Linked DNA regions of Homo sapiens. The protein of the gene in region 1 interacts with the protein of each later gene in a pairwise test. Each region holds a gene or a part of one and is shown in the gene's direction. Other genes may lie near its edges.

Region 1 (7,801 bases):
TGGGCTGCCCCACGAGGTGCCGCCTCCACTGCAGTGAATATCATCCCAGGAGTCGTCCCGAGCTGCAGATGACAGAGGACACTCAGCCCAGCACTCTGGCCTCTAATGTGCTTAGGAGGTGGAAGTGGGACTTGGCCGGCTGCCACACCTGGCGTTGAAGGCTCTGGGAAGTACAGAGGAAGTTTTCTGCCCAGTTACCTACTGTGCATAGGAAGAGCCCAGGAAGAACCTGCTGAGCACTCCAGGTTGCCGGTGTCCCCTGTGCCAGGGGCCCTTTCCCCAGCTGTGCCCCAGAGTTACCACGTGTCTGTTCCACGCCACATGACCGTGCTGCTTGCTACCCCACCCAGGTCTGCAGAGTCAGTGTCTCTTCCACCCTGGGCTTTAGGGAAGGCCCCGCAGTAGATAGAACCATTCCTCACTTCCTAGGGCAGAATTTAAGGTGGATTTTGATGCAGTATCTTTACAATGAAAGCCAGGTGACGTGTCTAGTCCTTTTCATATTGGTAGATGGTCATGCTCCTGTTTGGAGATTGAGTACATTCCAGGATTGTCACATTAGCCTTAAATTTCCACACCGTCATTTCTAAGGTATTAGTGCCTTGAGAAGAAATGCAGTTTAAAGATCATGAATTCTAGTTTTCCAACTGTAGCCTACTCCCGTTGGTATTGAGTGGAGGAGAAGAGGCAGGTCTCCAACCCTGCTTCAGAAACAGCAGCTCCTGCTGTGCCCAGTTTGAGTCTTGTGTAAGGTTTCTCTTGAAGAAAGAATTGCTTCTTTGAAAAGCCTGACCCTGAGCCTTATGCCACCACCCAGGTGTAGTGGGCTCCATTGCTGCTTCTTGGGAGCTTCTTGAGTCAACAGCGTGGCCCTTGGGTTTCAAAGTGGGGTGGAGGCTCCAGAAATGATGGGGTTCAGCCCTTCCCCTGTTGACATGGAGCTCGTGATGGTCACTCTGACTTGCTTCATGACCTGCAGTTGTGGATCTGCATTTCATTTGCATTGGGACTGCACATATCCTGAATTAATTAGTTAATTTGTTTATTTAAGATAGAGTCTTGCTCTGTCACCCAGGCTGGAATGCAGTGGCACGACCTTGGCTCCCTGCAACCTCCGCCTCCTGGGTTCCAGTGATTCTCCTGCCTCGGCCTACCGAGTAGCTGGGACTACAGGCATGCACCACCACACCCGGCTAATTTTTGTATTATTAGTAGAGATGGGGTTTCACCATGTTGGCCAGGCTGGCCTCAAACCCCTGACCTCAGGTGATTCGTCCACCTCAGCCTCCCAAAATGCGGGGATTATAGGCGTGAGCCACCGTGCCCGGCCCCTACCCTGAATTTAAAATGAGCTTTTACAAAAGGAGTCCTTTGCCCTCTTGTTTCCACCAAGCTGGATTCCTGCTGGTCGAGCGCAGGAATTGCAGCGGATTCTGGTTCTCCAGCTGGAAGGGCTCTAGGTCTGTCGTCAGCCTTCATCTAAGGGCAGAAGTGTAAAGAGCACCTGCCCTCCTGCCTTTTTTAAGTTGCATGACAAGTGTATCATCACATGCCATATGTATAAGATCAAGCACACATGAAATAGCCCCTGCACAGGGGTCGCTGGCTGGAGTAAGGAGGGAGTAAGTTTCACTCCGTCCTTTGCTTCCTGGCCTTGGGCAAATTAACTTAGAGGTATTGGGCCTCAGTTTCCTCACCTGTTGAGATGGGGGCATTCGCACACCTGCTTCCTGGGGTTGTGAATTCAGGGAGGGCTGGGAGCTCACATTTATATGGGTGTGGAGGCGCCGATTGTTTTTTCTCAGCGGTGTGAATGAGTTGTGTTGGACTGTGTTAGGATTCGACACTCAGCAGATATGCATGTGGTGTTGTGCCGTGCCGTGCTGGGCCCAAAGTGCCAGGTGGGTGAGATGTGTTTGATGCCTGTTCAGTTAAGAAATAAGCTTGTAGATCATCATTGCGGGAGAGGAGATAAGGGCCTGTGATGTAAGAACAGTGGGGCATTTGCCGAGAAAGAGAAGGGTGGGCGATCTGTGGGGCAGAGGATAGTCCTGGGCTCTGTGACATTTTTGCTGGAGAAGACCCTCTTCCCCTATGTCCTTGTGCTGCTCTCCCAAGGCTGTTCACGGGTGGGGTGAACGGGCACTGGTACCAGCTCCGCTTAGTGCCGGCAGGACTCTGATGAACACTCTTGACCCTGTTTCAGACCCTCAGTGCAGACGCAAGCGTGAACACCCTTCCTGTAGTGGTCTCCAGAGAGCCCTCGGTGCCGGCTTCTTGTGCTGTATCAGCAACGTACGAGCGATCCCCCTCCCCAGCTCATTTACCCGAGTGAGTATTGGTGTTCTTCCAGCGCCTTGGTGTTGACTGACTTGAATGGCCTGTGATGTTGCATGAGATTCAAATATCGGGTGGCATTTTTACAGTGATCCCAAGGTGGCGGAGAAACAGAGGGAAACCCACAGTGTGGACAGACTTCCTTCCGCCCTCACTGCGACCGCGTGTAAATCGGTGCAGGTGAACGGAGCCGCCACGGTACGTACCTCGTGCCTGCCTTCCTGCACGACAGCCGCGAGGCTCTGGTGTGAACAGACGCTGCGCACTCCTGCACCTGCTCGTTTTTTAATCACATCTAATTTGGTGGGTTTTTATTTGCGTCTGTCTGTGTTGTGTTTTCTGTACAAAATACCTTTAATATTTGCTAATAATTTTCCACTAACTACTCTAGTTCTTTCTCAGACCACCATGTAGTCCTTTTATTTCAGTGTTGGTCAATAGAGGTTTCTTGAGTAGTAACAAGACCCCAGCTCCTGTTTCTCCATAGACTTTAGGATCATTTCAGCATTTCGCGCGTGTGTGTATGTTTGCGTGCGTGCGCGCGCATCGTGTGTCTGATGAAGAGACAGGAAGAGCAAGATGGTGGCCCCACCAGCCTCCAACCCCTGTGGGCCCAGCAGGCCTGAACCCCAGCGACTTCCTTTCTGCTGTTTTCCCTACTGGGTGAACTGTGGCCTCTCTTACTCTGAGTTGTGGCCTCTGTAGTTTGATCTTGGGGGAGCCTTTTCCTTGAATTTGGGAGTTTAATCCCTTACTGTCCCCTGGGCTGAGTCTAAAAAAGGATTTTTTATAGGTTAAAATTAATAATTTTAATAATAAATAATAATAATAATAAAAGAGGCCAGGTGCTGTGGCTCACGCCTGTAATCCCAGCACTTTGGGAGGCCGAGGTAGGCAGATCATGCGGTCAGGAGATCCAGACAGTCCTGAACAACATGGTGAAACCCTGTCTCTACTGAAAATACAAAAAATTAGCTGGGTTTGGTGGTGGGCACCTGTAGTCCCAGCTACTCAGGAGGCTGAGGCAGGAGAATCACTTGAACCCGGAAGGCAGAGGTTGCAGTGAGCTGAGATTGCACTGCTGCACTCCAGCCTGTGCGACAGAGTGAGACTGTGTCTCAAAAAAAAAAAAAAAAAAGTTATTAAGGGAAATATTTTACTTTTCTGTTATTTAGTCTTTATGCTTCCACTTACCTGAAAACCCTATTACACATTTCTTGAAGATTTTAGCTGTCTTCATCATTCTTAGATATTTCCAGTCCTTTGTAGTTTGAAATGTGCAAAACATTTTTATTTAAAGACTGTTTTTGGAGTTTGCCTTTCAGGGTTGAGTACCGTGTGAGGGTCCATTGCCCACCGTGGGCACCTGGGACACCCTTCTGTTGTCCTGAGCTGGCGGAGCCAGTGTGGGCAGCATCCGGACTCTTCCTAGGCTTCCGCATTGCCCAAGCAGGCATAGGGCTGGGTAGGGATGGTGTTGAGTCAGCACTCTTCTTCGTCATGCCTTTTCTAATTTTATCCATTACTACAGTAGCACAGAGGGAGTGTTCTGCTGCAGGGGAAACTAAATCATTAGATTTTATGAACTTTTTAAAAGTTAAAAACACTAGTGAAGATGGAAACTTAGTTACAGTTGAAAACTCTTTTATCTTAAGTGAACTTGATTTCCTGTCTTGTCCCTAGAGACACCATTTCACACAGGTAACCCAGGATTGTCTGTTTCCAGGAATTGCGAAAGCCCAGCTACGCAGAGATTTGTCAGAGAACGAGTAAAGAGCCTCCTTCTTCCCCATTGCAACCCCAAAAAGAACAAAAGCCAAACACTGTTGGTTGTGGGAAGGAGGAAAAGAAGCTGGCAGAGCCCGCAGAGAGATACCGGGAGCCCCCAGCCCTCAAGTCCACACCTGGAGCCCCCAGAGACCAGAGGCGGCCGGCGGGGGGCCGGCCCTCGCCCTCGGCCATGGGGAAGCGTCTCAGCCGAGAGCAGAGCACTCCCCCCAAGTCTCCTCAGTGAAAACCGTACGTCTGGGAGGGGTCGCAGAGCGCTGTGTTAACCACAAACGAGACACTCTCCCACTCAGTGCGAGGGCGAGCCGCTGGTTAGGAGCTTGCAGTGTCTGAGGCCTGTGGGATCCTCAAGTTGGTTTTCTTCTGTGAGTTGGATTCTCCCCCTCTTGAAAAAAAATCGATTTTTCAGGATTTAATTAATACAAACCTTATTTTAGGTTGGTGCTTAACTGGAGGTGATGCATAAGTCTGATTTTTTTTTCCAAGATAGAAAAAGCATTTATCCTAACAAATTGGTATTTTTTATTAAGCCTCCATGTGGCTCTGAATGCAAGCTATATATAGTGAGTTTTTCTAAATTAAGGGAACTCTGCTTTTTTTTTTTTTTTTTAAGTAACTGGTCTGTAAGTGCATATCTCTAGAACGTCCCCGCAGATGAATGAGGGCCAGTGGCCTTGGCAGAGGCAGGTGTGGCCTCGTAGAGGCAGTGCTGGCCGCGCCAGGGCATCAGTGCTGATGTGGGAGCTGTGCTTCCACCTAAGCCGTTGGTAGGGGACTGTGGCATTTAAGAATGTAGAGAGCGCATCCTTTTTGATCTCCTGGGCGGAGTGAACCTGCAGGGGCCACCCCAGAAACCTTGGTTCTGATGCACTGCAAGCAAGTAACCAGCTTCTCACTCCAGTTTCAAGTGGCTATTATGTAATATAAATTCAAAGCACATTGTGAATAGAACCTACATGAAAACATACACTTTGTTGCCCACTGACATGTTACCAGAAGTTGTACCATGATGTTGTTTTGACCCCTGTGAGCTGATGGCCCCGGCCCTGCTCTGTGCACATTTCTGTCCGTGTTCCCCAGCACTCTGGTTGGAGAGAGTCCACATCTTCAGCTCCGTGTGGACATCTCCCTGTACCTCTGCATCAGCACATGGATTTAAGAGTTATGTAATCGTGAGAGAATGGTGTTTGTGGTTTTTCCCCCTCTTTGGCTGGTGGAGGATAAAGTTCCTGCTCTTTTACCTCCAAGACGAGGGCCTCATTGATTCACTTCCAGAAGTGCTGCACTTCTGAAGAACAAGGATGCACTAAAGTTAGCAAGTTTATAATAAAGTTAAATATAAATTATTTTGTTTTAAAATGCCTCAAATTTTTCTTTATTCTAAGCAGCAAACATTAAAATAAGAATATTTCCTGCTAAATGTAACCATACACTTTATTCCACAAAATGTTATTTAACAAGACTGAGGGTTTTTTTTAAGAAAAAATTATTTCCATCCAATATTTAAAGACTTGAATTTTATTTAAACTTGAAAATGACTTTGCCTTAACTTTTGTATAAGACAGCTTAGAGTCCATGGAGCCCGGCCCTGGGTTGGCGTGAGTGGGTCAGAGTTACTCAGTTACTGCGTGGATCTCCTGTCGCTAGTTTTACTGAGTAAGCATACTGTAGTACAAGAGCTAGTAGTAGTTTTTGTAATATACCTTAAAGATCTTCAACAGTTGATCTTTTTTCAGAATGTTGGAAAATCCTGTAAATGCAAATAGTCAATACTGTATTAAATACGTGCACTTGGAGTGTGCTTCGCTTGTACAGTTGTAAATAATCAGAACATATGAAAAAGGTACCCTACAGAGAAAATTCTGATACAGATTATTGATATATTATAAATGTTGCTGTTGAGCGGGATGTAGATAAACTAAATGTTGTGGTTTGAATATTATTTTGATTTGTTGAGATTTTCTTTTTTCTCTTACATCGGTGTGTTGAACTGATTCTGCCTCTTTGCTGCAAAAGGGAATTGGAAAGTCTTATTAAAAGCCTCCAGATGTTTTCATACTCTTTTAAAATGTATGTAAATGCATACTAATCATATCTAATGTGAAAGAGTTTTAAAGTATATAGAGAGCAAAAACTGGCAGGATCGTAAGTGAAGGTGACTAGTAATCTAATTTAAATCACCTGCAGCTAAGCATGATTGACCCTGCCAGAGGAAAACATGCCTATTTGACCATTTCCTTTAAAGCAGTTGCCATTATTCAAATACAGAGAAATAGCCACAGGGCTAGTGTTTTTCAAATGCATTTTAAAGAACATGGGGATTTTTTTTTGTAGTTGTCAGTTCACTGACCAAAAAAAAAAAAAAAATCAGAAATAATTGATCTGTGAAACCCAAACTCTCAATACTCAGAAAGCTGGGAGGCAACCTCGAGGCCTGGGCCTACGAGCTGCATCTTCGCTACGGAAGGGCCAGGGCGCCATCAGCCATTCCCAAAACACAAGGCCTGCCCGTCCGCCAGTGAGTCCTTGGTTTTTAATAATGAGAAGTCCTTTCCCCCAAGGTGTGAGCATTGCAGCGCAGTGTGTGTGTGTGGTTAGAGCCAGCTTAGTCCTTCACTTTGTCGACCGAAGTGGGAGCTCAACAGCTGCATGAGGAGGGCAGCGCGTGCATTAGCCAGTCGCCACTGGAGGGCTCTGCTGCCCTCCGGTCAATACACTGTAGTTACTGCCTAGCCAGCAGCAGTCTTCTGCATCAAGAACTGAAACGTTGCTCGGAGGTGATTTTTATAGCATCCTTTTTAATTAAAGGTGAAATACAGATTGCTATATAATGTCTGAAAAAACCTGATACTACTTCAAGAGTTTCTGCTCAGAAGAAAATGAGAGTTATCATAATAGGAAGCTGTGGCGGTCCATGCCAACTGTGCTGTGTCACATACAGCGATGAGAGTGGCTTTCATACTTTTTTTTTTTTTAAGTTAACACCCTCCTTTACCCCCAGCAGTATCTCAGGTTATAGAATCAGAGATGCAGCAGTGACAAATGGCATTTTAACTTGTAAAATCGTGTGATGATGCTTATCATTTTGAAATAGAAGAATAAAAACCTGGTCCCGTTTCACCAGACATGAATTTCAAGTGGAGTCGTCGTTCTCTGAGAGTGAGTGTCTTGACATTTTCACCCAGGCCCTCCTGTCATCACATCACCGGCTGTCACTGGCGGGTGGCCGTAAACGTCCTGCGTTGCTATATTAGGATCTCTGCAGTTCAGGCTTCAAAACCAGTTCAGTGTATCCGGGCGACGGGTAGTGGTGGTGCATGCCTGTCTGTGTGCCCCGCTGGCGAGCTGTAGTTGCGGCTTGCGTGCCTCGCGGCCCACTACAGGGCTGCAGACAATCGAGGCGAGGGCGCTGGCCGCCAGCAGCTCACAGCGCGGGGGTCATGTGGTCGCTCCTCGAGGGTTTCGTTTTTGTTCTGCTTCATTAAGACTGGAATCAAGCTTACATGTAAACTATTGGTAATTTAAGTTTCCTTTTGTGTCATTCAGTGTAAAACTGTCTAATTTGAAAAAAAATGTAGGTTATGAAAATAAAGATTTAGGCACTGTTCAATTTTTCTTTTGATTTTTTTTAAATTAAAATTTCTTCAATAATGCATCTTTTCTAAACATAGTTTTT
Region 2 (7,677 bases), on another chromosome or scaffold:
TGGTCTCGATCTCCTGACCTCGTGATCCACCCGCCTCGGCCTCCCAAAGTGCTGGGATTACAGGTGTGAGCCACTGCACCTGGCCTAGTACAATTTCAGTGTATTCTTGGGATTTGCTGTTCTTTTTTTTTAAACAGAGTCTCACTCTGTCACTGGGGCTGGAGTGCAGTGGTGCAATCTCAGCTCACTGTAACCTGTGCCTCCTGGGTTCAAGCCATTCTCCTGCCTCAGCCTCCCGAGTAGCCGGGATTCAGGCACCTGCCACAATGCCTGGCTCATTTTTGTATTTTCAGTAGAGAGAGGGTTTCACCCTGTTGCCCAGGCTGGTCTCGAACTCCTGACCTCGAGTGATCTGCCTGCCTTGGCCTCATGAAGTGCTGGGATTACAGGCATGAGCCACCGCGCCTGGCTGGTTTGTTGTTGTTTCTGCCATTGGCATCCAAAGATAAAGTTCCTTTCCTAAAATGACACCTTGACATGCTCAAGTATACAAACAGGAAGACATGACAGTATGAAAGACGCCACCTACTCCTCTTGTTATGACACGCATGGTTTCCCAAGTTACCAGTGCTTCTCTCTGGTTTGATCTGCATTGTCAAAAAAGAGTTGGGGTAGTTTCCTGAGTTTCCTCTCCCTGTATTACAGGACAAGAAATGTCACCAGTGAGAACTAGGTAACACAGAGAGCTAGTTTGCAACTCCTGACTGCTCAGGGAGAAAAATAACCAGCATTAACAGGGTTTTATTTTTGTTTTCCTTCCAACAGAGCAGCTCAAGCTCTTCCATCACAAAAATTCAATCTATACACAACAATGGAATTCAGTAGGAATCCAGGGAAAGGGAAGAAGTGGACAAAACAGATTGAAGTTTAACTTATCATTTTCCAAATACCCCAAATACCTAAAACACATCAAAAACAAAAAAACATTTACTTTATCAGTTTTTGTTTGTTTGTGTTTTTGAGACAGAGTCTCACTTTGTTGCCCAGGCTGGAGTGCAGTGGCACGATCTCGGCTCACTGCAACCTTTGCCGCCTGGGTTCAAGTGATTATCCTGCCTCAGCCTCTCATGTAGCTGGAATTATAGGCACAGGCCACCATGCCCAACTAATTTTTGTATTTTTAGTACAGATGGGGTTTCACCAAGCTGGCCAGGCTAGTCTTGAACTCCTGACCTCAGGTGATTCACCTGCTTTGGCCTCCCAAAGTGCTGGGATTACAGGCGTGAGCCACCACACCCGGCCTGGTTTACTGAATATAAATAGCTTAAATAGGGGTGTTACCCAGATTCCAGAAAAATAATACAGATATTTGGATAAATTAGGTAACTTTTGGTTATTTTTGTGCCATAAATCTAAAAACTTTATTAGTTTACTTATCACTAATATACCTGTCAAACTGTTGCTATGGAGCTTTCTACCATCAGGATATACAACCAAAGAAAAAAAGATTACTCAGAGTAGTAAAGAGTTTGGGAATGGGATACAGCGGACATATGACCCACCCTTTTGGGACTGCAGTGCCAAACCCGGAAATCACCTGTGTTTCACCAATCAGAACATCCTGTTTTTACTTTTTAATGGACATGCTTTTGTATCATGTACATCATTATGTTAATGGTTGGTAGCCATAAAACTTTTTTTTTGCTTACATCTACCTGTGTCTACTCTTTCAAATTTGTACAGAAAACCCAGCTCTGAGTGTATATCTTGATCTGGGAGAAACTAGCTATCCTTGAATATGCTTGGATAGTCCAAGGGTTCCTATCTTGACTATTTTAATGCCAGTTTAGTGAGCTAAGAAATGAACTAGAAACCAGAATGCTAGTTAGTGCTAAAACGGACACACTGAGTGACCACAGGACTTCCTTCTTGGCCAAACTGAGAGAGAAGGAGACTGTCATGAACAATATTAATATTAATGAAGCAAAACACTCAGATGATTTAGATGACAGCAGTAACTTCACTATGTTTTTTCCCATTTGTGCTGTGTGTATGTGTGCGTGTGTGTGTGTGTCTGTGTGTGTGTCTGTGTGGTACTTGATAATTTTTTATGGCCCTATGTGTCCATCCAGGTGAGAAAATATAATTGAGATCTAAGGCTTCCCTAGAAAGAATCTTAGAGATCATGCATTGTATCTGGATCTCAACTTACTTTTTTTATTTCTAAGATAATATTCTCCTAAATATTCAAACAATAATATAAGTTGTTTCTTTGCCTTTTGACCACCACCCAATTCCACTTTCCTTCCCAAAAATAACCAATGTTAATTAGTTATGTGTTCTACTCCTTTTCTGTACAGATACACAGAAATACATACAACCGACGCTGGGTGTGGTTGGCTCATGACTGAAATGTCAGCACTTTGGGAGGCCGAGGAGGGAAGATCACTTGAGCACAGGAGTCTAAGACCAGCCTGGGCAACATAGCAAGACCTTGTCTCTGCAAGAAATTTTAAAAAATTAGCTGGGCATGGTAGTGCATGCCTATCATCGCACCTACCCCAGAGGCTGAGGTGGGAGGACTGCTTGAGCACAGGAATTTGAGGCTGCAGTGAGCTAAGATGGCACCACTGCACTCTAACCTGGGCGACAGGGCTAAAAAAAAAAAAAAATTATATGTACACACACACACACACATACACGCAACTGCAATGACATATCTTTTTTTTTCTTTTTTTTTTTTTAAGACGGAGTCTCACTCTATTGCCCAGGCTGGAGTGCAGTGGCACGATCTCGGCTCACTGCAAGCTCTGCCTCCCGGGTTCATGCCATTCTCCTGCTTCAGCCTCCCGAGTAGCTGGGAGTACAGGTGCCCGCCACCATGCCCGGCTAATTTTCTGTATTTTTAGTAGAGACGGGGTTTCGCCGTGTTAGCCAGGATGGTCTGCGATCTCCTGACCTCGTGATCCGCCGGCCTTGGCCTCCCAAAGTGCTGGGATTGCAGGCGTGAGCCACCGCGCCTGGCCCAATTGTTATTTATTGAACAGAGTTTGAAGAAACTGAAAGTCTCCATTTCGGTGGCCAAAACCGCAATTACTTTTGCACCAACCTAATACTTTAAAACAAACAACAACAAAAACACAGTTGTTATTCAAACATAAATTCAACTGGCGCTCACTTTTGTCTTCACTTAAGTTAATCAGATGTTCATGTTACTATGAAGTTGACCAGTTAATTTGTAATGAATAATTAGTTAATTTGTAATGAATAATATTTCACTGAGTAGTCAAGCCCTCTTTCCACTAAACCAAGCTGCTTCTCACTGTACTAAACCCCGGGCTCTCTCTAAACTTTCAGGTGTTCCACTCCTTGTCACCTTCCCCTAGATCCTGAGTGGGGTTCACTCTTAGCTCCCTCGGGGGCCACTTCTCAACACTTACAGAGCTCCTATTGACCTGGCACGGTGGCTCACGCCTGTAATCCCAGCACTTTGGCAGGCCGAGGTGTGGGGATCACCTGAGGTCGGGAGTTCGAGACCAGCCTGACCAGCAAGGAGAAACCCTGTCTCTACTAAAAATACAAAAAATTAGCCAGGTGTGGTGGCGCATGCCTGTAATCCCAGCTACTCGGGAGGCTGAGATAGGAGAATTGCTTGAACCTGGCAGGCGGAGGTTGGGTGAGCCGAGATCGTGCCATTGCACTCTAGCCTGGGCAACAAGAGCGAAACTGTCTCCAAAAAAAAGAAAGAAAAGAAAAAAAGAAGACTTCCTATCTCCACCTGGGTCCCCAAGAGGTAAGAGGTATCTCCTTTTCTCCTGAGCCTAGGTCACCTCGGGGTCCCCCGAAGTTCCCCAGAAGGGGCTGCACAAGTCAGGACAAGAAGTCCAGGAAATGGGGGGTCGCCGATGACCACGCCCCGGGGCTCTGTTTGGGAACCCCCAAAATTTACTGAGGTGGAAAGATTGCGGGGTCATTGTGGGGTCAGGCTGAGGGGGCCGGGCCCAGCCCTATTCACGTGACCCGGTCCCAGGGAGAGGAGTTTGTTCACCCACCAGAGGGAACGCCCGACGCGAAGGCAGTGTGGCACCCTCCCTTCCCGGGGAGTCCTGGGCGTTGCTCTCCCACCCCGGCCGTGACGCAATCTCTCCGCGCCGGGGGCGGGACGAGCTTGACGCCATCTCCGGGCGCCCGGCTGTGGGGGGCGCTGGGTGTGGGGCGGCTCCGGGGCCGGGGATGGCGGCGGCCGCGGTTGCGGCGGCTCCGGGACGAGTGAGTGGATCCTGGGAAGCGCTGTGAAATGGGCTGGTGAGTGTCCCTGGAAGTGGTGGCCGCCGGGGCCAGGCAGGCCTGGGGTCGGTGCTCCGGAGGAAGTGGCCCTCAGGAGCCCGTTGCTCCGGCGGGCCGGGGCCCATGAACCGTGGACAGACGGAGGGGAGAGGCCGCACCTAGACCCCCTCGCGCTTCTCTCTGGCCTGTCCTGGAAGGTGGCCTCAGGCCCCGGCGCCCCGGAGGCTGTGTGCCTGCGAGCCAAGGTGTCCGAGTCTGTGGGGCGGGAAGGGCCCCCAAACAAGGAAGCGTCGCCTGCAGGGCCTCGCCCCTGCCCCCTTGGTGAAGGGTGGACCCCCTACTCTCTAAACGCAGAATTCCCAATTTCGAGCCCTACCCTTGTTGGATCAAGGATTGCGGGACCACTGGGAGCCATAACCGTAGTCTCTGACAAGCTTCTCCCTTTCTGTCGGGCGCACCTCTCGCCCGCAGAGAATTTGGGTCTCCAGCTGGGTTCAGCCCCTTGATTCCGACCCAAGCGTGATGAGGAGCTTGGTTCCGGGCTCTGCTAGCAGCGTTGGCAACTCTCCTGAACAGCCTGTTAGCTCGGTTGGGGTCACAAGCTGCGTTTTCCCTTTGAGATGCTCAGTGAGGTTCTCGAGAGGCGGAGGTTTCGGATTCTTAAGTGTGTTTTGCGTTGTGGGAACCTGGCGCACAGGCTTGGCTCTTTGTTTTCCTTTCTGCAGACCTTTTGCCTCTTTCGGTCCCTTTACTAGCCTGTGTTTGCTAACTTCTCGGTGACCTGGAGGCAGGTTTTCTTTAAAGTTTTCGTTACAGAAAGCAAGGATCATTTTGGGATTGAAGTGTGACCCCAGTTTCTGTTGGGAATGAAGAAGAAAGCAAGCTGCTTTTCAGTTATTAAAGCTGCTGGTGGAGAAAAGAGTCATTATTTATGCCACTGTGTAATAATATGTGTTTGTGGAATTAGGAATTTGTTTTCCCACTGTGTTTTCCTATCCTTCCACCTTTTGTGTACACCTGCACCTTGCCAATCTTAAGAGAGAAATGTTGCATTCGGTTTGGGTTGAGGCTTAGAGTGTTCTATAGGACTTGGACAGGATAGTCAGTTTCTCAGAGCACTCACTCATCTGTACTGCCTTCTCTGTTTTCAGAGGTTAAGGCTCCATTCTTTCTCGCTTTGCGTTTCTGGCAAGTGTAGATTCACATAGTGATGGTTTAGTGGTAGTTTTGTTTCACCAGTGTTAGCCAGCTGAGGACCAAGGCAATATTTTCAGTTTCTTTCATACCTGATTCAGCACTTGGTATACTGTCACTCAGAAAATTTTACATACACACACACATATGCTCATTTTTTTTTAACCCTGAAAATCTCTTAATAAGTCTTCTCCTTGAGTGACTCCCCCCTGACCTCTTTTTCTGCCCCAGAAACATAAATAATTGTTCTTTTTCATCTACTGCTGCTTTTTTTCATTTAAATAACTCCACATTTATGTTTTCATAGGCCCAGAATAAAGGGGAAATCCATAGAGTTGATTTTTCCTGCTTCCCATTGTTCATATGGGAACAGTGTTAAAGCTTCCATTTTTATTTGTGCGTTTATCTGAAATTTGGATTGGAGCAAATTTAACCTTTGGGGAACAGGCACAGGTAGATGTTAGGGAAATGATGTTACGGAAAACCAATGAAATTTGATACATGGAAATTTTTTTTCAGGGATGTCTTCTTACAAGTTGGAGCATTAGAGGTGTTTTTCTCTCTGTTCAACTGCCTGGGCACTCTGGGTAAATGTACTGTTTACCTGTGGAGAAGAAGATGAGGCAAGGACGTGTATACTCTAATGCTTTGGAATTACCTTTCATGGTGACCCTGGGGAGAATTAGAGGTCAGGCAGCCGCTTACTCCATTCCTGTTTCTATCTTCTAGGCTCCCGAGCCAGCCGGGAGGACACTTACTACAGCTGCTCAGAAGCACCACTGGAAACTCAGGTAATACCGGCACTTTGAATTCCTTGTTTCAGGAAAATATCTGGGATGTCACAGTGGAAAAACAGAACAGAATGTAATATAGAAAGCTCTTTTCAGATCCAAAGAACTGGAACCTGGTTGGAAGAAATAGGCAGCAAAGTTCATGTGCACTGAAGTGTTCAGACCAAAAAGTTGCTTTATAACAATGGACAAAAGCATTTGTGAAAGGTGACAATAAGAGAAAAGGGAAAGAGAACTTTCTTATGAATCATACAGATACGGGGAAAAAAACAGGCATGTTTAGAGGAATGGAACCAGAATTTCATGGAGTGGTGCCTGGAGCAGACCTACAGTGGAGAAGGAGCTATTGGTAAAAGAAAGCACAAAGAAAAAAGAAAGGGAATGAATAGAGAAGGCAAATTGAAGGTGATCATTGAGAAGAAGCCTTTTGAGACTAGGGAACCGGAAGTGTACGTAAGGTCAGAAGAATTTAGAATTTTGTTGTTCTTTGGTGAAGAGGAGAAACAAGTTGACAGCAAACTAGTTTAATCACTTTCACTATATAGAGGCTGAGTTAAAATGTATTATTTCATGGGTCAAAGATGTTAATTTTCATAACCTGGTTAGGGAGCAAAGTCTTAAAAAAAAAAACAAAACACGAGCAGACCTGAGGGTTTTGGCACCTAGGTCCTTGAGGTACTGATGAGATGAGGCAAAGGAGGAAGAGAGTTTTTAGCCAGGCTTGGGATAGCAGTAGGTGAGATCATAACCCAAATTAGGCTACAGAAAGGAAGCAAGGATGAGGTCATATGTTCAGGAAAGAAGGTGGCACATTCATGTTTGGTAGCAAAAGGAGAAACTTAAGAAAAAGAGCCAGCAGGAGGCTGGGCGCTGTGGCTCACACCCGTAATCCCAGCACTTTGGGAGGCTGAGGTGGGCGGATCACCCAAGGGCAGGCGTTCGAGACTAGCCTGGCCAACATGGTGAAACCCCATCTCTACTAAAAATACAAAGTTAGCCAGGCGTGGTGGTGCATGCCTGTAGTCCCAGCTGCTTGGGAGGCTGAGGCAGGAGAATTGCTTGAACCCGGGAGGCGAGGTTGCGGTGAGCTGAGATTGCACCATGTACTGTGGCCAGGGCAACAAGAGCAAAACTCCATGTGTTTTAAAAAAAAAAAAAAAAAAAAAAAAAAGCAAAAGAGCCAGCAGGAAAGACCATGTGTTCAAAGCCCCCTTTGGGAAGAAGGCAGAAAAGAGACAAGGTGCTTATGAGACACATGACTAACCGTGAAGCTGTTGGTCTCCCTGGGCTTGTGGAGCCCACAGGTTATTTGTGCATTGGTGAATGCGTGTCCCTGTAGCTCTTTGTGCCTTGTGATTTCCCCGACTGTTTCTCTCATGTCCCAGGCTGGATGAGTTGGGGGTAGCCTCCTTGTCTGCCCCTTTCTCTTTCCTCCTTATTTTCTAACAGTCCCCTTTGTTACATC
Region 3 (7,801 bases), on another chromosome or scaffold:
GGTCAGGAGTTTGAGACCAGCCTGGCCAACGTGGTGAAACCCTGTCTCTACTAAAAATACAAAAATTAGCCAGGCATGGTGGCACATGGCTGTAATCCCAGCTACTGGGGAGGCTGAAGCAGGAAAATCGCTTGAACTGAGAGTCAAGGCGGAGGTCGCGGTAAGCCGAGATCACACCATTGCACTGCAGCCTGGGTGAAGAAACAAGCCTCCCTCTCAAAAAATAAATAAATAAATAAATAATACCTCCTCTGGGATAAGTAGTGCTCCGTCTGTCTCATGGGCACATATTAGTGTCGTAATGCCAAATACTAAGGTTATTGTAAGCATAAACATTGAAGATAATTGCTAGAGAAAAATAGACTGAAAAAGATGTAAGAAAAATACACGTAGATGAGAGTAACCTGTCTGGTGGAATCATGACATTCTAAGCAGTGAAGGAATCACCAATGAGAAAATCTACAAAGGCTCAAGATCAAGTCTCTTTAGGTGAATAAGGCAATCTAGAAAGACCTTGGAATAATAATACCATTTCCTGAGGACCTTCTAAATAAGTGCCATTAAAGCTTTAAATACATTAAGACTATTCTTCACAAAATCTCTGCTAATAGTAGGTATTAATTGAGACTCAAGAAATATCAAATAACTTATTTATGGCTACACAGCTAGATACTAATGGCAGGAGTGTTTAATTAGAAGTACTTTTACTATCCCAGGTTGCCTCAAATGAAAACATTTTGGACAGCAATGTAAGGTGAATAGCTGAGCATGATGGCACAAGCTATAGCCCCAGCTACTTGGGAGGCTGAGGCACAAGGATTGCTTGAGCAAATGAGTTGAGTCCAGCATGGACAACTGTATTCCTGCAGCCTGCTTGTATTCCTCTCCTCAAAGTGCTTTTTCCTTCTCTGCCACATGACTAGTCTGTGAATTTTCCAAACTTCTACGCTCTGCTTCCCTTTTAAATATGTTCCAACTTTAAGTTATTTCTTTGCTTCCATATCTGATTGTAGGCTGCTAGCATCAGCCAGGCCACATCTTGAATGCTTTGCTGCTTAGAAATTTCTTCTGCCAGATACCCTGATACCCTAAGTCATCACTCTTAAGTTCAAACTTCCACAGATTCCTAGGGCCTGGACACAATGCACCCAAGCTATTTGCTAAAGCATGACATAGATGTACCTTTATTCCTGTTCCCAATAACTTCCTCATTTCCATCTGAGACCTCATCACTCTGGACTTCACCATATGTCTATCAGCATTTTGGTCACAACCACTTAACTAGTCTCTAAGTTCCAAACTTTCCCTCATCTTTCTGTCTTCTGAGCCCTCCAGATTCTTCCAACCTCTGCCTGTTACCCAGTTCCAAAGCTGTTTCTACATTTTCCAATATGTATAGCAGTGCCCCACTGTCAGTACTAATCTGTTTTAATCTGTTTGCATTACTGTAAAGGAATATCTGAGATTGGGTAATTCTTGCAAAAGAGAGATTTAATTGGCTTACAGTTTCTGCAGGCTGTACACAAAGCATGGCACCAGCAGCTGCTTCTGATGAGGGCCTCAGGAAGCTTACAATCATGGTAGAAGGCAAAATGGGAGCGAGCATATCACATGGTGAGAGAGGGAGCAAGAGAGAGGAGGAGGTCCCAGACTCTAAACAACCAAATTTCACATGAACTAAGATCTCACTCATCACCAAGGTGATGGTGCCAAGCCATTCATGAAGGATTTGCCCCATGATTCTATACCTCCCACGAGGCCCTACCTCCAGCATTGGGGGTTACATTTCAACATGAGATTTGGAAGTGACAGCCATCCAAACCATATCAGCAACATAACAAGACCCCCAACTCTTAAAAAAAAAAGTTGAATATATATCCAAAAATATCTTGAATTCCATATGGAAAGCCTCCCCCCTCAAATTTGTAGTAAATTGTATTATAATGAATACATTAATTAAAAATATACTTGGCCTGGCACAGTAGCTCAAGCCTGTAATCCCAGCACTTTGGGAGGCCGAGGCAGGCGGATCACCTGAGGTCAGGAGTTTTCGAGACCAGCCTGTCCGACATGGTGAAACTCTGTCTCTACTAAAAATACAAAATTAGCCAGCCATGGTGGCATATGCCTGTAATCCCAGCTACTCACTCAGGAGGCTGAGGCAGGAGAATCACTTAAACCCAGGAGACGGAGGTTGCAGTGAGTCAAGATTGCACCGTTGCACTCCAGCCTGGGTGACAGAGTGAGACTCTGTCTGAAAAAAAGTAAAAATTAAAAAATATATTTGACAATACCCAGTACCAATTTATTGTTTGTTGTTGACATTAACATTTTCTTTAAGAGTATTTCTTCATCTGTAAAATGAGGATAAAAATTGTAAAATTGTACCTACTTCCAGCCTCATAGAATTGTTTTGATGATTACATCAGAAAGCTTGTAAAAACCTTAGGCCTGTTTCCTGACATATACTAAATGCCCCATGTGCTAACTGAGGATGATCATTGTAGGAAAATTTCATAGACTATGAGGGAAAGCCATGCCTAAAATAATCTCCAGCTTATTAAGAAGTGCATTCCTTTTTGTTTCTTTGTTTTATCTTAGATTGAGTCTCACTGTATTGCCAGTCTGGAGTGCAGTGGCGCAATCTCAGCTCACTGCAACCTCCACCTCCTGGGTTCAAGCGATCCTCCTGCCTCAGCCTCCTGAGTAGCTGGGACTACAGGAGCACACCACCACGCCCAGCTAATTTTTGTGTTTTTAGTAGAGGCGGGGTTTCACCATGTTGGGCAGGATGGTCTCAAACTCCTGACCTCAGGTGATCCACCCGCCTCAACCTCCCAGAGTGCTGGGATTACAGGCGTGAGCTATCCGTGCCCAGTCAATTTTTGTATTTTTAGTAGAGATGAGGTTTCACCATATTGGTCAGGCTGGTCTTGAACCCCTGACCTCAGGTGATTCACCCGCCTCAGCCTCCCAAAGTGCTGGGATTCCAGATGTGAGCCAGCGCACCCAGCCTGGCCATCTTTTATAAAAAGATGAAGATGTCAGAATTCCCTAATAAGATTCTGGCTCTGTTACCCAGACTGGAGTGCAATGCATGGCATGATCTCAGCACACTGCAACCTCCATCTCCTGGGCTCAAGCCATCCTCCCACTTCAGTCTCCCAAGTGGCTGGGACTACAGGCACACGCCACCACACCTGGCTAATTTTTGTATTTTTTGTAGAGACGAGGTTTCGCCATGTTACCCAGGCTGGTCTTAAACTCCTGAGTTCAAGTGATCCACCTGCCTCAGCCTCCCAAAGTGCTGGGATTACAGGCATGAGCCACTGTACCCGGCCCCTAATAAGTTTTAAATAACCAATATTTTAAAATATTTTAATAGTTACATAGCACTTTAGTTTGCTGATTTAATTTATCCCAAGGGACAAGGATGTTAATGAGAAAACTGACTAGATTTCAGATCACAGATTTTAAGAGAACAAGGATCTCAAAACCAAATACCCTCTGCTTAAAGTGTTTTTTGTGTTTTTCACTACTGAAAATGTTTAGAGATTGACTTACCTATTGCTGATACTCAAAACATCTGATATCTTAATATTTTTAAATAACTCACTAAAAGCATATGTTGAAAATGGCAATGTATAGTCTGAGACTGGTGATTAGACTGGACTAAAAGCATATGTTGGAAATGGCAAATATATGATCTGAGACTGGTGATTAATTTACAGTATTGGCACCTAAAGAGATACTGAGATGAATAACTTATTAATTTCCTTCTTAAAATCATAATTTTGGATCTGTAAAGGACTATACAAAAAAAAATTTTAGTATTATACCTGCATTTTATAATTGTGGAAATGGAGGCCAGAAAGAATAAGAGGCAAGTTAGGGGCAGATCTTGGGTTTGGATCAGCTCTTCTGATGCCTGGTTCTGTGACATTACAAAGCCTGAAATTCAGCTCCAACATCTATTAAACATTTGCAGAGTATCAGCTGGGTGCGGTGGCTCTCATAAGGCCAGGAGTTCAAGACCAGCCTGGCCAAGATAGTGAAACCCCATCTCTACTAAAAATACAAAAATTAGCCGGGCATGGTGGCAAGACACCTGTAATCCCAGCTACTCTGGAGGCTGAGTCAGAGAATTGCTTAAACCTGGGAGGCGGAGGTTGCAGTGATCCCAGATCGCGCCACTGCGCTCTAGCATGGGCGACAAAGCGAGACCCCATCTCAAAAAGAAAAACAAAATTTTTTTGCAGAGTATCTACTGTGTGTCAAGTACATTACCCAAGACTACAAAGAGAAATACAATTTAGCTAATGTCCTCAAGAAGCTAACAGTATACTAAAAGAGATATGTAGGCATCAATTATAGTAATGACATAACATATTCTAATAGAGGTAAGTACATAACACAGTGGGCATGTCTAGTTGTCTTTGTTTCTGCTGTTAAAACAGAATATCACAGACTGGGTGATGGGTTGATTGATTGACTGATTGAGGCAACTCTGTCACCCAGGCTGGGGTTCAGTGGCATGATCACAGTTCACTGCAGCCTCAACCTCCCTGGATCAAGCAATCCTCCTGCCTCAGCCTCCTGAACAGCTGGAACTACAGGTGTGAGCCACCATGCCCCACTAATTTTTATTTATTTATTTTTTTTTTCTGAGACGGAGTCTCAGTTTGTCGCCCAGGCTGAAGTGCAGTGGCACAATCTCAGCTCACTGCAACCTCCACCTCCCGGGTTCAGTTTTCCTGCCTCAATCTACTAGGATCTAGCTAGGATTACAGGTGTGCGCCACCATGCCCAGCTAATTTTTGTATTTTTAGTAGAGACGGGGTTTCACCATGTTGGTCAGGCTGGTCTCAAACTCCTGACCTCATGATCTGCCCACCTCGGCCTCCCAAAGTGCTGGGATTACAGGCGTAAGCCACCGCGCCCAGCTAATTTTTAAAAATATTTTATAGAGACAGGTCTCACTATGTTGCCCAGGCTCGTCTTGAACCCCTGGGCCCAGGCGCTCCTCCCACCTTGACCTCCCAAAGTTCTGGAATTACACATGTGAGCCAACACACCAGGCCCAGACTGGGTAATTTATAAAGAAATTTACTTCTGCCCACACCGCCCCGCCTCCCCGCGCGAGTGGCTGAGGCGTAGCGCTGCCATCCCCGCACCCCTGGGAACATGGCGCTGCGAGTGGTGCGGAGCGTGCGGGCCGTGCTCTGCAGCCTGCACGTGGTCCTGGCACCTGCCGCGCCCTGCCTATCGAGGCCCTGGCAGCTTGGGATGGGCGCCGTCTGGTTACTGTAATCTGCCTGAAGTTGGGACAAAATTGAACAAACAAGATGAGTTTGGTGCTTTGGAGAGTGTGAAAGCTGCTAGTGAACTCTATTCTCCTTTATCAGGAGAAGTAACCGAAATTAATGAAGCTCTTGCAGAAAATCCAGGACTTGTAAACAAATCTCGTTATGAAGATGGTTGGCTGATCAAGATGACACTGAGTAACCCTTCATAACTAGATGAACTTATGAGTGAAGAAGCATATGAGAAATACATAAAATCTATTGAGGAGTGAAAATGGAACCACTAAATAAGCTAGTATGAAATAACGCAACCCAGCAGAGTTGTCCTAAATTAGTGGTGGATAGAAGACTTAGAATAGCAACTTTTAGCATTACCCATGGGAAAAAAAAACTACTGTTAACACTGCTAATGAAAGAAGATGCCTTTTAACTTTCTAATGATTGTAGATAAACATAATATGTGTCTTTTTCACAACATCCTATGATTTTTAGACTAGGCTCTAGTATTCATGAAATTATCCATGAAATTATCCATGGTAAAAATTAGTTACAAAAATTACATAATTCAAAGATAATGTTGTTATTCTTAAGCCTTATATAATATTGTAACTTGTGTATGTCCATACCTGGACTTGGGATGAAATACTTAATGATCTTTCCATTGGAAATAACTGGGAGTGAAGAAGTTTTTGTTGCTTGTACAGTGTCAGATGAAGAACAACACTATCTTAATTTTGCAATACACTGCATTTGCTGGTGCTGTTTTTATATAGTGAAGCAACAGCTGTACAGCAAAATAATAAAATACTCACTTCTTCGTTAAAAAAAAAAAAAATTTACTTCTTACAATTCTGGAGGCCAGGAAGACCATGATCAGGTGCCAGCATCTGGGAAGGGCCTTCTTGCTGTCCTCCCATGGCAGAAGATGGAAGGGCAAGGGAGAGCTAACATGCTCCCGCAAACCCTTTTTATAATGGCATCAATCAAATATGAGGCCAGAGTCCTTGTGACCTAATCATCTCCCAGAAGGCTCCGCCTCCCAACCCTGTTGCATTGGGATTAAGTTTCCAACACATGAATTGTGGAGACAACACATTCAAAACATAGCATTCCACACCTTGGGCTCCCCAGATTCATGTCCTCACATGCAAAATAAATTCATTCCATCCCAATAGCCCCTAAAAAGTCTTAACTTGTTCCAGCATCAACTTTAAAGTCAAAGTCCAAAGTCTCATCTAAATCAGATATGAGTGAGACTCAAGGCATGATTCATCATGAGACAAAGGATGTACATTTGCAATGTTTGTCATGTCAGACAAAACAAAAATATGTAAATATCCATCAATAGGGAACTGCTGAAAAATTTTTTTGTATAATCATAAAATGAAACATGCAGATGTTTAAACCAATGAGCTAGATCTCAACGTGCTGATATGGAAAGTGCTTCAGAATGTATTAAGGACATAAATTAAGTGTACAATAATGTGTGTGTGTGTATATATGTATATGCTTACGTGTGTATGGAAAGTATCTCAGCAGATACAATAAAAACTTAATTGTGATTACCCCTGGATCAATTAACATGTGGTATAGTATAAGGAAATGAATTTTATACCTTGATCAAACATTTGAAAAATTTTACAATATACTGCTTTATAATTTTTAGAAACAACATATTGTGGCCAAGTGCGGTAGCTCACGCCTGTAATCCCAAAGGCCAAGGCGGGCAGATCACCTGAGGTCAAGAGTTTGGGACCAGCCTGACCAACATGGAGAAACCCCATCTCTACTAAAAATACAAAATTAGCCAGATGTGGTGGTGCATGCCTGTAATCCCAGCTACTTAGGAGACTGAGGCAGGAGAAACGCTTGAACCTGGGAGGTGGAGGTTGCGGTGAGCTGAGATCACACCATTGCACTCCAGCCTGGGCAACAAGAGCGAAATTCCATCTCAAAAAAAAAATTGTTTAAATGAAGAATCTGTAGGAAAACAAAATGTTGATAAAAAGTAGTCCAGGCACGGTGGCTCACGCCTGTAATCCCAGCACTTTGGGAGGCCGAGGCAGGTGGGTCACCTGAGGTCAGGAGTTTGAGACCAGCCATAGCCAACATGGTGAAACTCTGTCTCTACTAAAAATACAAAAAATTAGCCGGGCATGGTGGCATGCGCCTGTAGTCCCAACTACTCAGGAGGCTGAGGCAGGAGAATTGCTTGAACCCAGGAGATGGAGGTTGCAGTGAGCCGAGATCACACCACTGCACTCCAGCCTGGATGACAGAGTGAGACTCTCTCAAAAAACAAAACAAAACAAAACAAAAAAATACAAAAATTAGCTGAGCATGGTGGCACACGCCTGTAATTCTAGCTACTCAGGAGGCTGAGACAGCAGAATCACTTGAACCCAGGAGGCGGAGGTTGCAGTGAGCCAAGATCGCACCACTGCACTCTCGCCTAGATGACAGAGTGAGACTCTATCTCAAAAAAAAAAAAAGTAAAA

Evidence for each region. Proteins that work in one complex are often made in the same cells at the same time.
Region 2: the proteins of LARP4B (region 1) and ATXN1L interact in binary tests that used the Homo sapiens proteins (3 or more experiments, as listed by UniProt).
Region 3: the proteins of LARP4B (region 1) and NDUFS1 interact in binary tests that used the Homo sapiens proteins (3 or more experiments, as listed by UniProt).

Annotation. Positions count from the first base shown.
Region 1 is NC_000010.11:809,476-817,276, reverse strand, and holds the end of LARP4B (la-related protein 4B), read left to right. Parts: intron 1-2,206; coding exon 2,207-2,331; intron 2,332-2,426; coding exon 2,427-2,535; coding exon of another isoform or gene 2,536-2,640; intron 2,641-4,020; coding exon of another isoform or gene 4,021-4,063; coding exon 4,064-4,351; 3' UTR 4,352-7,780; downstream 7,781-7,801. UniProt on the Homo sapiens protein: Stimulates mRNA translation.
Region 2 is NC_000016.10:71,841,860-71,849,536, forward strand, and holds the start of ATXN1L (ataxin-1-like), read left to right. Parts: upstream 1-4,116; 5' UTR 4,117-4,245; intron 4,246-6,150; 5' UTR 6,151-6,212; intron 6,213-7,677. UniProt on the Homo sapiens protein: Chromatin-binding factor that repress Notch signaling in the absence of Notch intracellular domain by acting as a CBF1 corepressor. Binds to the HEY promoter and might assist, along with NCOR2, RBPJ-mediated repression.
Region 3 is NC_000002.12:206,113,884-206,121,684, reverse strand, and holds the end of NDUFS1 (NADH-ubiquinone oxidoreductase 75 kDa subunit, mitochondrial isoform 1 precursor), read left to right. Parts: 3' UTR 1-6,868; downstream 6,869-7,801.